Regions from separate parts of the Homo sapiens genome. Here region 2 is linked to region 1. A link means that fine-mapping ties the variant in region 1 to the expression of a gene that starts in the linked region. Tissue or cell type: thyroid. Region 1 holds a variant in brackets; the other region holds the start of a gene. All regions are shown on one strand. Distances are from middle to middle.

Region 1 (2,500 bases):
TGTGCGGCCTTATTTCTGAGATGTCTATCCTGTTCCACTGGTTTGTGTCTGTTTTTGTACCAGTACCATGCCGTTTTGGTTACTGTAGTAAAGTCTGAAGTCACGTGATGCCTCCAACTTTGTTCTTTTTGCTTAGGATTGTCTTGGCTATACGGGCTCTTTTTTAGTTCCACATGAATTTTAATGTAGAATTTTTAAAAAAATTCTGTGAAGAATGTCCATGGTAGTTTAATGGGAAAAGCATTGAATCTATAAATTGCTTTGGGAAGTATGGCTATTTTCATGATACTAATTCTTCCTATCCATGAGCTTGGAATGTTTTTCCATTTGTTTGTGTCCTCTCTGACTTCCTTGAGCAGTGGTTTGTAGTTCTCCTTGAAGAGGTCCTTCACATACCTTGTAAGTTGTATTCCTAGGTATTTCATTCTCTTTGTAGCAACTGTGAATGGGAGTTCATTCATGATTTGGCTCTCTGCTTGTCTACTGTTGGTGTATAAGAATGCCTGTGATTTTTGCACATTGATTTTGTATCCTGAGACTTTGCTGAAGTTGCTTGTCAGCTTAAGAAGCTTTTGGGCTGAGACAATGGGGTTTTCTAGATATAAGATCATGGCATCTGCAAACACAGACCATTTGATTAACTCTCTTCCTATTGAATACCCTTTATTTCTTTCTCTTGCCTTATTTCTCTGGCCAGAACTTCCAATACTATGTTGAATAGGAGTGGTGAGAGAGGGCATCCTTGTCTTGTGCTGGTTTTCAAGGGGAATGCTTCCAGCTTTTGCCTGTTCGGTATGATATTGGCTGTGGGTTTGTCATAAATGGCTCTTATTATTTTGAGGTATGTTCCACCAATACCTAGTTTATTGAGAGTTTTTAACATGAAGGAATGTTGAATTTTATTGAAGGCCTTTTCTGCATCTATTGAGATAATCATGTGGTTTTTGTCTTTACTTCTGTTTATGTGATGAATTACATTTACTGATTTGCATATGTTGAACCAGCCTTGCATCCTGGGGATGAAGCTGACTTGATTGTGGTGGATAAGCTTTTTGATGTGCTGCTGGATTCAGTCTGCCAGTATTTTATTGAGGATTTTTACACTGATGTTCATCAGGAGTATTGGCCTGACATTTTCTTTTTTTGTTGTATCTCTGCCAGGTTTTGGTATCAGGATAATGCTGGTCTCATAAAGTGAGTTAGGGAGAAGTCCCTCCTTTTCAATTGTTTGGAATAGTTTCAGAAGAAACGGTACCAGATCCTCTTTGTACCTCTGGTAGAATTCAGCTGTAAATTCATCTGGTCCTGGGCTTTTTTTGGTTGGTAGGCTATTTATTACTGCCTCAATTTCAGAACTTGTTATTGGTCTATTCAGGGATTCAACTTCTTTCTGGTTCAG[T/C]CTTGGGAGGGTGTATGTGTCCAGGAATTTATCCATTTCATCTAGATTTTCTAGCTTATTTGCACAGAGGTGTTTATATAGTATTCTCTGATGGTTGTTTGTATTTCTGTGGGGTCAGTGGTGATAGCCCCTTTATCATTTTTTATTGACTAGCACCTCTTTTCAAGGAGGTTGTGAGGAGAATGGAAATGTGTATCAAGTACCAAGCCCAGGGCCCCACACAAATGCAAGTTTCAGTAGGAGGTGGTAATGCTGCAAAGGTGGTGGGAGTAGTTGGGTTATTATTGGATCGTTTCCATCTGCATAGTTTTATACAAATGGGGTAGGGTTAGTGAACGCTGCAGAGCCCCGAGCAAAAAGTGCCATAGACAGTTTTGTCGGGGGACATGAAGGCCTGTTCCTCTCGGCCACCCCTCTGCCCTCTAGCTCAGGAAGCATAAGTTATCAGGGGTAATGCCTGGAAAATGACATAATGGTTGGGTTCTAGAGAAGGGGAAATCAGGAGACTGAAGAAAGTTAAGACAGGGAGCTATCAGGGAAATGCTCAGAGGCCTTGGGGTTGAGGCCAGTAGGAAACTTTGTTCAACGAAGTCTCATCTAAAGGGTTCTTTCCTACTGGAATTACAATGCTTTATTGATTCAATAGATCTTTTCAAAAGGATAAAAATCCATAAAATAGACGTCTGACAAACTGAATCAATATAGCTTTAAATAAATGAAAACAAAACACAGAATATACAACCCAAAGAGGTTGGGGACTGGCAGCGGGGAGAGAGCACCTAAGGCAGTTAAGCTTTGCAAAGGTGGTGCTCACAACACTACTGGGTGTGGCAGGGGTCATGCTCCCCATTTTGCAGGAGAGAAAACAGAAGCTTAGCAAGTTTAGTTAAGATACCTGCCAATGTCACTCCAACCCCAGTGCCACTAGAGCCCGGCCCCGTGGACGAGACCCTGTGGTCTTGTTGCTGTTAGCCTCCTTCACTTGGAACTTTTTATTTGGCAAGAGCCTAACAGTTGCCTTCTTCCAAAACAGGACTTGAATTCTGGAATTCAAACATGCTTTTCTTTGGGTAATTGTAAGATGAGCCTCATGATGTTTGC
Region 2 (2,624 bases), 440 kb after region 1:
TTCACGCAGTATTAAAATCTATTTCAACCATGAGGAGGTGTGACTTCTCTAAAAAAAAAGGGCGGGGGGTGGGGAGTGGAACACAATGACTCCAAAATCAGAAGTCACTTAGCCAAAAACACTGGTCCTTTGGTGCAGTGAACCGGGTACATGGACAGGGAGTCACCACCGGTAGTAACTCTTACGCATGGCAGCACTATAATACACCCCAGATATACAAATATTTACGGTGGTCAGAGTCCCCTGAATACTACTACTGCAATTTGTATTTCCTGATTTTGACGTATTGCAAAAGGAAAATGCAAAATTACAATTTTTGCAAGGGTCTGCTACCCCAAAATAAAGTTACAAAAGGTCCTTTGATGAGAGGCCTGGGGATTACAAAGACGTCTAAAGCACCATCCAGGTTCTTGCAATTAAAATGAGATGACAAACACGGAAACATGTGCCCTGCTGACGTCATGGAACGGAAAGGGGTGGCATCCTGCTGCGTCACGTCGACGTCATACAGCGCACGAGGGAAGTTACACTGGGGAAGCAATTTCCCCCAAGGGGCAACATTCGAGAAAAACAAGTTAGCTCAGACCCGAAGAATGACCACCCCACTCTAGGGGACGTCTTAAAAAGGGACACTCTCCCCTCTTCCAAACTGTATGATTCCCCTCATCAGGCAACAAGGAACTAATACTCGGGGTTTACAGGAACCAGGGGATGGGCCAGATATGGAGAAAGAGACGCCTCTGGCCTTGGGGGCTCGTTCTTGAGGGAATCAGCGTGATGGGGATGAGAAGGGCATCTTTGGAACGGGGGCCTTCTCCATAGGAAGAGGAGGCGAGTCCCCTGGCCATATTTAAACCACAGTTCTCCACGCCACCTGTGCGACTCGGGATCCAACCTCCCCGCACCAGCCCCAGTCCAGGTACCTGGAACTTAGTCCGATCGGTAACCGGCGACTACGTGGGGTACAGGTACCCGAGCGCGCCCCCGACAGACGCACCGACCTGCGCGCGCGCCGCGGGCAGGATGCGTGCGCACTCCCCGGACGTCCCGCCCCGCCCCCTCTGCGGCCCCGAAGCTGGGCGGCGTGCGCGCCCCCGCGCCGCGCCGAGCCGGGCGCTCGGAAAGGCGTCCCCGCGGTGCCTGACAGTTCCTTCCTCAGCGCCTGCCCCGTGAGTGACGAGGAGCGCGGAGTCTCGCCATATCAGGAGGGCCCTGTTACGTGAGGCTGTGCACCGAGACTATTCCAGGAAGAAGAGGGGACACTTGGTGGGCGGGGTGATTTCGGGCAGTCAGGTGGGCGACCCGCGTAGGCGTCTGAAAGGCCCGCGTCGTTAGGGAGGGCAGGAGTGGCGTCTCTGGTTACGGGGTCGGGCAAAGGGCAGAGGTCACCGTCCAGGTTGGACAGCAGCACCTTTGAGCGATGGCGGCGTCTGGGGAACCCCAGAGGCAGTGGCAAGAGGAGGTGGCGGCGGTGGTAGTGGTGGGCTCCTGCATGACCGACCTGGTCAGGTTAGTCCGGGGCCAGTTACTCAGTCTGCGGCTCGGGGGAGGAGGCGTGCCGTGCGCTATGCGCCCAGTGGAGCTTTTGGGCGCTGGGTCTCCAGGGATAGACAGTGCTAGCTTTGGGTATGAGCTGCAGGTTTTCGAAGCCTTCAGCCTACCTTCCTGGCATGAAAGAACTTGAGTATATAAAGGTAAATCTCAGGGGAGGGGACGTAATAGGCCAGGGTTTAGTGAAAGCTCTAATATTACTCAAAGCGCTCCCCAAAGACCTGCCCTCCAAAGACTTGCGCCCCCAAAGACCTTTCTTGGCCCGGCTGCTGAGCCTTTCCCCAAACGAGCCAGGGAACTTTGCCCACGTCATTTTACCTCCGAGAATGTGCCTACCTCACAGGGTTGTTGTGAGGACTAAATGAAGTAAAGTGTTTTGTCAAGCGTAACATTATCCAAATTGGGTATTATTCGTCTGAGCTTATTGTATAAAATAATGAGTTGAGCAGAAATCAAAAAGACTGTCACCTTTCACCATGTTGATTGTCGGCATTACTGCAGTATTTTATATTTACAGCGTATTTTTCAGCAAGCCAAGTATGAATCAAAATAAAAACATAAACACAGTATTTACAACCTCTGAAAACGATGATCAAATTATGATAGAAAATATGCCAAATGAAAATTGTTGAGTTAGGTCAGTAAGATTGAGTAGACAGATCCTTCTGATTTTTCTTTTTTTTAAATTAAGGTAGCTTTTCTGATTACAAAAGTAATGTATGTTCACTGTAAAATTAGTAATAAATTCAGATATTCCAAGAAAATCCTACCACTCCAATTACTGCAGTTCAGTCTTTTGATGAATATCTTTTCAGTTGTAATGCTACTTTGTGTTATAAAAATGATCAGGTATGCTACAGTAACACCTCATTCGTCCTGAAATGTTGCTTTTCCAAAGGGTAATAGAGAACGTGGAACTAAACAAAAAGGCTTTGGGACAATCAAAATAAGTCACCAAATTGCTGCACCAAACCACCTGTATTCTACTCAGAAAATAGGTCTAGGGTCTTCATGTAACCAATTTAACCTTACCTTAAAATATTTATAAGCTGTGTTACCAAATTTCCACTGAG

Direction of the effects. Positions count from the first base shown, and alleles are read on the strand shown. Sizes are in standard deviations (SD) of each study's normalised expression.
In carriers of allele C in region 1, the expression in thyroid of the gene that starts at base 1,379 in region 2 tends to be higher than with T alone (large effect, 1.0 SD a copy in GTEx).

Evidence for each region. PIP is the estimated chance that this variant, and not a neighbour inherited with it, causes the effect.
Region 2: RBKS starts here. The variant in region 1 is fine-mapped to the expression of RBKS in thyroid (GTEx, PIP 0.98).

Annotation. Positions count from the first base shown.
Region 1 is chr2:28,328,522-28,331,021 of GRCh38, reverse strand. All of the region lies in intron 11 of BABAM2 (BRISC and BRCA1 A complex member 2), which reads right to left. Among named protein-coding and RNA genes, the nearest start is that of BABAM2-AS2, 19 kb to the right of the region's middle. The variant T/C (reference allele first, on the strand shown) is at 1,400.
Region 2 is chr2:27,889,142-27,891,765 of GRCh38, reverse strand. RBKS (ribokinase) reads left to right here and starts at 1,379. Exons shown (of 8, transcript NM_022128.3): 1 at 1,379-1,509. The coding sequence starts at 1,421. It overlaps BABAM2 (BRISC and BRCA1 A complex member 2), which reads right to left and starts at 1,037. Exons shown (of 12, transcript NM_199191.3): 1 at 924-1,037. It overlaps BABAM2-AS1 (BABAM2 antisense RNA 1), which reads left to right and starts at 652. Exons shown (of 1, transcript NR_028308.1): 1 at 652-2,310. RefSeq lists a silencer at 912-1,191.